Regions from separate parts of the Homo sapiens genome. Here region 2 is linked to region 1. Evidence: fine-mapped QTL for protein levels in blood plasma. A gene starts in region 1. The other region holds a variant in brackets. All regions are shown on one strand. Distances are from middle to middle. Region 1 holds the start of HSBP1 (heat shock factor binding protein 1). Region 2 holds the start of CEDORA (CDH13 antisense oligodendrocyte and neuron associated lncRNA).

The links. PIP is the chance, under the fine-mapping model, that this variant and not a neighbour inherited with it causes the effect. The UK Biobank Pharma Proteomics Project read protein levels with antibody pairs (Olink). The fine-mapping took linkage between variants from a reference panel, not from the people measured, so its PIPs are less certain.
Region 2: its variant is fine-mapped to the plasma level of the HSBP1 protein (UK Biobank, PIP above 0.99).

Annotation. Positions count from the first base shown.
Region 1 is chr16:83,804,126-83,809,499 of GRCh38, reverse strand. It overlaps HSBP1 (heat shock factor binding protein 1), which reads right to left and starts at 1,522. Exons shown (of 4, transcript NM_001537.4): 1 at 1,379-1,522; 2 at 754-820; 3 at 75-195. The coding sequence starts at 1,423. The coding sequence ends at 77. RefSeq lists silencers at 1,086-1,375, 1,393-1,569 and an enhancer at 1,227-1,728.
Region 2 is chr16:83,768,845-83,774,218 of GRCh38, reverse strand. The region is part of intron 11 of CDH13 (cadherin 13); the gene reads right to left. CEDORA (CDH13 antisense oligodendrocyte and neuron associated lncRNA) reads left to right here and starts at 1,270. Exons shown (of 4, transcript NR_188499.1): 1 at 1,270-1,410. RefSeq lists an enhancer at 4,607-4,746. The variant G/A (reference allele first, on the strand shown) is at 2,759.

The DNA.
Region 1 (5,374 bases):
CAAAACTCCGTGTCAAAAAAAAAAAAAAAAAAAAAAAGAAAAGAAAAGAAAAAAAAAATTGCCCCCTTCCTCACCTTCAACTCTTTTGCGTGGCAGGTATCTTGTTTTCACTTTCCAGTTCTTCCACCCCAGCCTGTGTCATGAGGTCCGCGATATTCTTTTCCAGATCATCAATGCGACTACTCATATCATCAAGTGCTGAAGTTAAAGACAACGCGTGCCAACATCTCATTGAGCCTTTTTCCTCCCGTCCCTGCAGACTACAGCCTTAAACACAACGACTTTAGGGAAACTGGTCTTCCAATTTTCTTTCGACACTGTTACACGCTGGTGGGTAAGAGTACAGGACTGTGGGGCATGGCTACCCCGCATCGGATTCCAGCCCTGACCCTTACTAGTGATGGAACCCCTAAACCTCAATTTATTCATTTGCTAAAGATGATAACACTACAACCCACTCATAAGGTCATGCTGAGCATCAAAAGACACACACAAAAGCGCTTAGTTCACAGTGCATGGTCCACCACACCAGCTATTAGGATTGGTAGACGTATGCTCCTTGAGCCAGGAGTCTAACTCAGCTTTGCCCCTAGCTCTCGGCGCAGTCCTTCTCAGAAACACAGTACAATCCAAGCTCAAATTCTACAAGTGAATGGCTGAAGCTAGCCTGAAAACTACTCATTTATCCCCACCACTGCCCGGCAAATAGGCTCCAAAGGCCCACAGGAGGCCGACTGCAGATAAAAAGGATATTTCTCCCAATGATCTGGTCAGACATGGTCTGAAATTTATCTTGCATCTGCTGCAGGAGTGTCTGCACCTAAGAAAAACCGAAACAAACAAACACGGTCCACATCGATCCTGAGACAACTTCCTGGGATCAGGACGCAAGCCCTGGTCCCGGGGTTCCAGCCCCATTTCTGCCTCTGGACAGCTGTGCGGCCTTCAGCAAGATCTTCCTTCTCTGGGCTTCCGTTTTCCAACCTGTCCAATTAGACTGCTGGGCTGGGGAGGCCGCTGCGACTCAAAGCTCAGGGTCTTTAGGTTGTTTCTGCCGGGCTGGGGCACCCGGGGGTGTGTGAGGAGTTGAAGGGCGGGGAGGGTGTCAGAGGTAGGCGGGAGGGACCCGGAGGGCGTTCGCGACAGATGAATGGGGCTACTGGAAGGGGTCGGGCTTGGGGGCGCCCGCGGGGAGACTGGCCCGCACCGAGCGCCCCGGGGGTCAAGGTGGCCGGGAGCCTCGGCCAGAGACGCTTCCAGAAACGGGGCCTCGGCAGACGCCACGCGCGGCCGCGGTGGGCGCGCCTCTGTCCAGCAGGGCTTGGCCCGGCGCCGCCCGGGAAGGCCGCGGCCTCCGGCCCTCACAGCCGTCCCTTACCACCGAGGTGAGGTCCTGCACGGTCTTGGGGTCAGTCTCGGCCATCTCCCCGATGCCCAGCTTGGCGGTGATGTCTCAGACCGTAACCTACACTTCCGTTTGTCCGCTCAGTCGCCCCGGGCCGCTGCTTCTCGCGACGAGACTGGCAGCTCGCGGGACCGCGGGGCATTATGGGAGTAGTAGTTTCTCCCGCACCGGAAGGGCCTCGAGGCCGCGCGCTTCCGTTCCAAGGAGCGGCCCCACCCCACTCTCCCCGCCTTCTTTCGCATAGCCCCTCCCCTCCCTCTATGCCCCGCCCCTCACGCAGCGCGCCGTCAGTGGGGTGGAAAGTGAGACCAACTCAGAAATGGAGCAATAGAGGCAGGGAGTGGTCTTGGCCTCTCTTCCAGGCTGTAGTCAGTCGAAAGACGGCTCTGGGGTTTCTTTGGCCTGTCGGGACGAACTTACAGAACTTTTGCCCTTCAACAAGCCCCACTGTACCCTTGTAACTGCCCCCAAGCCAAGGAACATGACCCACCCCTACCCGCCCCGGGAGCCCCATGGCTCCTGTCCTGTTCTGTCATCTCCACCCTATGAAGGTGGCCAGCGTCTGGAGTTTAGCCCAGTAGGTTCATTGTGCCCGTCAGGTTCATATGAGGGGATTCAGACAGGAAGCTGTCCATCATGCCTGGCTTCTTTCACTCCACGCAATGCCTGCTGTTGAGTGGGGAAGGCTTCCGGCATCAGGGTTAGACTGTGGGTTTGGGTGTTGAAGGAGGTGGGCACTGCTGATTTGGAACCTCAAGTTCCAACCCCACAGGTGGTCTTTAGGATTGGGTCTCATGGCAAGGGGATAGGAGAGTCCTTGACTGCGGGCCTGGCATGTTCTGGAAACTTTCACACATCTCATTTAAGGACTGTGCTATGTGAGGGGTCAGCTCCAGTTTGACTTTAGCTAGGGAGAGGCTGTAAGGTGTTAGAGCTGTTACGGGAAAGGGTCCTGATCCAGACCCCAAGAGAGGGGGTTCTTGGATCTCATGCAAGAAAGAATTCAGGGCGAGTCTGTAAAGTGAAAGCAAGTTTAAGAAAATGAAGGAATAAAAGAATGGTTACTCCATAGACAGAGCCCTGAGGGCTGCTGGTTGCTCATTTTTATAGTTATTTCTTGATTATATGCTAAACCAGGGGTGGGTGATTCATGCCTCCCCTTTTTAGACTATATAGCGTAACTTCTTGACGTTGCCATGGCATTTGTAAACTGTCATAGCGGTAATGGGAGTGTAGCAATGAAGACAAGCAGGGTTCACTCTTATTGCCATCTTGGTTTTGGTGGGTTTTGGCCGGCTTCTTTACCGCAAGCTGTTTTATCAGCAAGGTCTTTATGACCTGTACCTTGTGCTGACCTCCTATCCCATCCTGTGACTTAGAATCCTTTAACTGTCTGGGAATGCAGCCCAGTAGTTCTCAGCCTCAGTTTACCCAGCTCCTATTCGAGATGGAGTTGCTCTTGTTCAAACGCCTCTGCCAGACCCACCAGTGTCTCTAACAAACCCGGAATCCAGTTGGCCTTGAGGCATGAGACTTCAACTCCCTTTACCACCCCTTCCCCCTCACTCACACCTTTGCCCCTCACCCTTCACACCTCATCCTTTCCTATAGAGAGATCTTCCTTTCTGTGTAAGTATACACAACTTTTTTGTAATTGGCTGTTGTCAACTGGTATTTGGCTAGTGCTTTACCCGACTACTTGAAATAAAAATATCTCAGTGTTTTAAGTTAATCCTCAGAAGACCCTGTGATATAATTATCATAATTTTACATTTTTGAGAAAACAGATGCAGAGGCGTTAAGAAACTGGAACAAGGTCATCAAATTAAGGAAGTAAGAGACGCAGGACTTCCTGACTCTGCATCTTCTCCTTTTTTCTCACCATTCTAGAATTCTCTGAGTTTTTTGAGCTTAGAGCAGAGTTTCTCAAGAGCTGCAATACTGGCATTTGAGTCAAGTCGTTCTTTATTGTTGGTGGTGGAGGGGGCACCCTGTATATTGTAGGACGTTGGGCAGCATCTCTGACTTCTACCTACTAGATGCCAGTATCTCAGTTTTCTTAAAAGACTTTTTTTTTTTTTTTTTTTTTTTTGAGATGGAGTCTTGCTGTGTTGCCTAGGCTGGAGTGCAGTGGCACCATGTCGACTCACTGCAACCTCCGCCTCCCCGGTTCAAGCGATTCTCCTGCCTCAGCCTCCTGAGTAGCTGGGATTACAGGTGAGCACCACCATGCCCAGCTAATCGTAAAAGACTTTTCATAAAACTTCAGAACTCCTTAAAAACTAGTGAATAGCCAAGGTGAAGAAAGCCCTCAGGCTTCTGACTTTAGACCCCAATCCCTGGGACTCCCACACTCAGCAAAGAAAGCTGGGTGCCTGCACCCTGGATCTCTGAGCAAACCTGTCTTATGGCTGTGGGCAACTCAGGAACATGAATTAGCACGAGAATCTGGAGTTTTTCTTTCCTTTTCTGGTAAGACACTTGTGGTTTTTTTTTTTCAAATTCCAATTGGAAATTTGCTTTACATGAACAACAAACAAACTTGATACTCTTTTAGTGGAGGCATTATTTGTTCCTTTATTTTTTGCACTTAAACAGACAGGCAGTATGCTTTCTCTGTGTGGAGACCAAGGTCTGTTAAAGGGCTGCTTTTCACGGAAGCTTCACTAATTTATACTCATGGCTGACATACTCACCTTGTGGGGCTGACACACCGAACCTAACTGAATATTGTCCCATTAACAAAACTAATGTATTACGTGTAAGGCACCAGTAATTAACCTTTAAACTTCGGTTTTGAACAACTCTCATTTTTAACCTTTATTTAAGTGTCATAGTTGTCTTACCTCCTCTTGGCATTTTTTTTTTAAAGCTCTTCCTAGATTAATTGCATGTTGTAACTCCCTTTTTCCATTCAAGACAGTTTTGTTTTACGTGCGCTTATTATGGTACTTTTATAATTGCTTTTTGGTTCTCTGGGCCATTCTTTTGACATGCCTCCTTTCTTGGATCTGTACTATGATAGGTGGCTGGGCATGGTGGCTCATGCCTGTAATCCCAGCACTTTGGGAGGCTGAGGCAGGCAGATCACTTGAGACCAGGAGTTCAAGACCAGCCTCGCCAGTGTGGCGAAACCCCATCTCTACTAAAAATACAAAAATTAGCTGGGCTAGGTGGCGTGCACCTGTAATCCCAACTATTCAGGAGGCTGAGCCAGGAGAATCGCTTGACCTGGGGAGGCAGAGGTTGCAGTGAGCCGAGATCTATCCCCTGCACTCCATCCTGGGCAACAGATTGTGACTCTGTCTCAAAAAACAGTAATAATAAAATACACTATGGAAGGTGTTGGTCTGTCCATGTGACCACATGCAATGAGGTGCTTTGTGCGTTTGCCTTGTGTGAGCAGCGATGGAATGATCCTAGCGGGGCCTTGGAGGAACTGGAATGTTCTTTGCCTAGTTGCACCTGCGTCAGCTCTGTAGGCCCAGCCCTGGGGCCCAGCAGCTGCTCCCCTGGTTTGCTTTCCTCCCAGGTTGCCTCATGCTGCTGCTGAGCAACCTTCACCTGATGGGCGGTGCCACAGCAGGGTCAGTGAAGGGTGCCCCTTCCTTCTAGTGACCTGGGCTGCCCTAGCCCTGGCCCTTCAGTAGCCATTCCAAACCTTTCTGGTCCCCCCAAATCCAGGACTTTATCCCCTTCACCCTCAGAGGATGACCTTATATTCTATTTTGTGGAGAAAATGGAGACTGTCCATCAAAACCCCTTAACTCCCGTCCTGCGTGCATTCCTAAGTTCCTACATTAACCCCCGTGTCACTAGCTAACGATCCTTTCTGTCTCAGGAAGCAGTGTTCTTCCTCGCGCACAGGGCTCTGCGTTTGTCTAAGGCAGAGAGACCTGGGCCCTGATCCCATTCTCTTTCCTCAACTCCAGGAACTTGCTTCCTGCATTCATTTTCTTTTTTCCAATG
Region 2 (5,374 bases), 35 kb after region 1:
GTAGTAGGACAATAGGCAGGATAGGCGCTGGGACCAATGTCCTAGGCTTGCTGGTATCACCGGCCATGCACAGTAAAATAGCATTTACTATTTCTGTAGGACGAATAGCTCAGTAGCCGAAAATGATTATAGAGTTGAGTAGATCTTTTTCAGAGATAACAGCAGGGGGCTGGGCTCCACATGGGGACAGTCTGTGCTGATGGAGGTTTGTGAAGCAGAAATGAGACCCCAGAGCTGAGGCCTCGTCTTCCAGCTACAAGACCATGCCAGGCAGGGAAGGGGGAGGGATAAGGATGGAGAGAAAGGAGGAAGCTTGGGAGCAGGACCTTATTATAGAAATGGGCCTCTGTGGGGTAGTGGTTTAGAGCCTCATGACTGGGGAACAGTGTTGGAGCCTGTGGCTCAGCCACCAGGAGAATCACCATATACTAATGCTCACCCTGGGTTTGAGGCAAGGCTAGAAGAACTTCCTTACCTCCTAAGGATAGATAGGCTTGACCAAGAGGGCCATAACCTTCCCCTGTGCTGGACTACACTTTAGATGGGCTTCTTTCAGACTCTAGAGCCCTGATATGGTTTGGCTTTGTGTCTCCACCCAAATCTCATCTCCAATTGTAATCCCCACATATTGAGGGAGGGAGATGATTGGATCATGGGGGTGGTTTCCCCCATGCTGTTCTCTTGATAGTGAGTGAGTTCTCATGAGATCGGATGGTTTTATAAGTGTCTGGCATTTAACCTGCTAGCACTTCTCTCTCCTGACACCATGTGAAGAAGGTCCTTGCTTCCCATTTGCCTTCCACCATGATTGTAAGTTTCCTGAGGCCTCCCCAGCCATGTGGAACTATGAGCCAATTAAACCTCTTTCCTTTATAAATTACCCAGTATCGAGTAGTAGCTATACAGTAGTATGAGAATGGACTAATATAGGCCTTGACTTCTCTTTTCTTGAAGCATTTACTTTAGAAACTTGCAATTGTAAATTCTTTCTCTGTCCCTGTGAGATGTAAATCTTCCAACCTGTTGCTAGTTTTGCAACCCAGGACCACTTTTCTCAAGGACCTGACATCTCTTTGAAATGTAATCATGGAAAGGAATAGTGTCTCTGTCTCTCAGTCTCTGTGGAAGGGTTGGAGCCTAACTCCAGTAAACACCCATTAGCAAACACAGATGCCTAATCACATGGACCAACCTCCCCACAAACATCTTCCAGTACTTTTCCATTAGCTCATCCCAGCTCTTAAAAATCGTCCCATTGTTTGTTTCAGCAGAGTTAGTTCAATCTCTCTCCCTTATTGTAGCCTTGAATAAAGGCTTTGCCTTTCAAACTCTGTCCTGCCCATTTTTCTTTGACATGTTCAGATGTTGGCAAGGCTGAAAACTGCAGGGGATCTGGTTGTGATAATCCAGGTAAGCCACAGGGAAAGCACAGGTAAGGCAGAAGCAGGGAAGTGAGGTGAGGGGTGGTGTATCCATGAAAGGAGGGTTCCAAAAATGAATGATAAGAATGGTCATGTCACACCAGGAGTGTGGTACTGTGTGCACCCGTTGGCAAGCGACTTAATGAGATTGCTTTAAACATGGCTTGATTTTAATTTGTAGAACAAAATTGAATCCATGATTGATCCACAAGGCCCTGTGAAGTGTTTTGTAAAAATATACACTAAGTCTTTATGGTCAGAGTTTCTTTGATGCCGGGAGTTTCTGCTGACCTATATTCAGTGTTATAAGTAATTGGATTTTTCTTTTTAACCAGCAGTTGCAGACTGGCATTTGGTCTGCTAATTTATCGTGTTTCTGGGATGTCCAGTGTTCTAAGAATTCTTATTTTTTATCCAAATGGCTTCAAGTGGAGCACATATTTCCAAGATGACCACTGGTCCTTTCCAGCCTACTGCCTCTGCCCTGGCTTCTAGCAGCATAAGACTTGGGCCTTCCTCATATGTTCCCTCCTAGCTAACCTGACTTTAGCCAGTATAGATTTTTCTTCATTTCTCCATTCCTGAAGTATGGCTCCCTCCTTTCTCTTAAGCATGTCTTTCAGTCTTATACTACTTCTTTTCTTAATATTGAGTCTATTTGTATACATGGATAGTTTAATAGGCATCTCATTTAAGGTTCTCAAATAAGTATACAAGCTAAAAAGTCACCCCCCATCCTTCTCCACCCACAGAGTGTACATTGTGTTGGGTGATATCATGGGGAAAATACCAGGAGCAAACCTTAGCTGCAGGAATCTCTTTTCTCTTGTGTCATTGACTTCTTATTAGAAAGACATGTGTTTTGGTTACAAGGTTGGCAATTCCATCATGCAGCAGTGTGAATGGGATGTAAGGAGATATTTTTAATTTTACCTCCTAATACAACCATATCAAATCCCATTTCCAAATGAGGAAATGAGGACTTGTAGGCACAGATATCTGGAAACAAAGCCTATTTAAAATTGCTTAGTAGGAATGACAGTTTTCCTTCCGACCCATTTTCAGTGACAGCCTGTCACTCTTGACTGAGAGATCTCCAACCTACAAATGTTGGTGGGTTATTTATTTTGCAAGCAGCCCTCCTGCTGCCATACAATGGCAAGTCTTGAGGGGGAAAGGGTTATCATTTTCTTTCCTTTGGATCTGAGTTACTGGCTCTGTTGCTCTAGAGGACTATGCCTTTTAGACCATGGCGGTGCTTTTGCTTCATGGACTTGGCACCCTGCCACGGTCTTCCTGGCATTCAACCTCTGCTTGCCCTTGTTTCTGGCTTTGTC[G/A]TTCCCACTCAGCACTGACAACTTGTAAGAGCCTCAGCACATTATATGACCACGATAGGACCACATGGATTCCACTGCTGGATTTCAAACTCCAATAATTAACCTTGTATTTCTTCAAGTTGAGCAGTGATAACTGCCTATGAGATGGCCAAGTTGGCCACCTGGCCTGCCTGGGTTACTCTTGGTCTGGTTGGCTCATGACTTACACTTAGCCTTTTGTGATCTTGGTGTAGGGAGGGCAGAACTGTGCGTTTTCTAAGAGAAGCAGGGTAATATGATTAATAAAAGGTGAAGATTTACGTAGAGGAATCGAGCACCTGTTATCATACAGTCTAGGAAAAGTCCAAGCAAACCAGGCAGGCTGTTGCTTTGAGCACATGGGGGTCTACATTCTAGTTTTTTCTCATTTTCTAGAAAAGAAAACTAGACACTCAGATTAAGGAAAATGTCCAAGGTGCTCTAACATTAGTGTGTCAGAGGCATTGAAATCAGAGCAACTCCATCTTGAATAGGTGCTGGGTAAAATGAGGCAGAGATCTACTGGGCTGCCTTCCCAGGTGGTTAAGGCATTCTAAGTCACAGGATGAGATAGGAGGTCAGCATAAGATACAGGACATAAAGACCTTTCTGATAAAACAGGTTGCAGTACAGAAGCTGGCCAAAACCCACCAAAATCAACATGGTGACAAGGGTGACCTCTCGTGGTCCTCACTACTGCACTCCCACCAGCACCATGACAGTTTACAAATGCCATGGCAACATCAGGAGGTTACTCTCTATGATCTAAAAAGGGGAGGCATGAATAATCCACCCCTTGTTTAGCATATCATCAATAAATAACCTCAAAAATGGGCAACCAGCAGCCTTTGGGGCTGCTCTGTCTACGGGGAGTAGCCATTCTTTTATTCCTTTACATTCCTAATATACTTGCTTTCACTTAATGGACTCGCACTGAATTCTTTCTTGCGTGAGATCTAAGAACTCTCTCTTGGAGTCTGGATCGGGACCTCTTTCCAGTCACAAGCATGTCACCTGTTTAAGAGCTGTGGCCCCCTGGCAGGGCATCCCCATCCCTGGAGCTTTCTGGCTATTCTATAAAGTGAATGGAATGCCTGGCAATTGTAAAGCACTTCCCCGTCCATAAGAGCCAGAGCCACAGAGCTCGAAGTTTGAGTATTTTGGTGCTTGTGGTTGGTACTAAACACTGGTAGAAAGGGTAAAAAACAGTTTCCTGTGCTTTTCTTACCTACATGGCCAACAGTATATTGCTTTGTGTGGGAAGCCTGTAGAACTGAACCAGGACTCCTCCAAGAAACATGAGCCACGCGTGGTTCTCCTGGCATTGCTTTGACGCTGTGGGTGTGGATGCAATGAGAAACAGGGTCAGGTTTTGAAACCATCCCCACAGGGTTGACGGGAATTGCATGCCAGGTTCTGGGTACAAATACAGTTATAATTCAGCGTTAATCAGGCTGCACCCTGGCCCAGTTCCTTGTTGCAGTAGGTCATGTACCGTAACCAAGTACCCTGATTTTTCTGAGGTGGTTTAATTACTTTTTTCTCTTCTCTTCTCCTTTCCCCTTTCAGCCTGCTTCCTACCTAGCCCTTTTTGAAATGCAAAATAACCTCTCACCTCCCCCTCACCACACATTCCCTACAAGGCAAGGTCATCTACGTGCCCCAGTGATCTCTTCTCCAGAATTGACAGTCAATTTGCAGATCAAAGCACATCTCCACGGAACTCCCACTTCTGGGGTGGCCTCAGGAGGACATGGTGAAAACACGCCCACTTGGCCACTTTTACAACTTATTTCTGCCCAGGAAGGCACCAACTCAACTGTATGCCAACTCAGCTGTTTGGTAGATAAGACACCAGGCTAGCAGGGGGACTTCCTGCCCTTGCTCACTTCCCCTTTAACCTTATAAACATGTCTGCTTTTTGCTCCAAAGATGAAGCAGCACACTTAAAGCAGGACACTTTGTGTCTTTCCAAGCTAGCTTCAAAAATAAATTCACTTTTCTTGTACCAGGCCTGGATCTTGTTAATTGGACTCTGCTGCAGTGAGTGGCTAACCAGTTCCTCAGTTACAGTAGCACTAGATCCTGACATTTGCTTCCCCACCGTTCCCCTAGATAGGATCTCTGACATTAAGGCCAGAAGACTGTTTAAGAATTGATTTGCATCCCCATTGTTCCTATAGACACTTAAGATGTTTTTCAGACACACCTCCCCAGAATTCCAGCCACCAGTTGGAAGTCTCCCACAGGGGAACAGGATCAGCATGAGAACACAGCTGCTTCCTCTCCCCTTCCTATGACTTCACCCTGTACTCTTGATCTCCACACTTCTGCCCACTCCAAAGCCCTCAAAAACCCAAGCCTCAACTTCCTTGGGGAAATGGCTTTGAGGTTCCCTCCCATCTTCTCGTTCTGTGACCCTGTGGTCAAGGTGTTTGAACCAGAGCAACTCCATCTTGAATAGGAGCTGGGTAAAATGAGGATGAGACCTACTGGGCTGCATTCCCAGACGGTTAAGGCATTCTAAGTCACAGGATGAGATAGGAGGTCAGCACAAGATATAGGTTATAAAGACCTTGCTGATAAAACAGGTTGCAA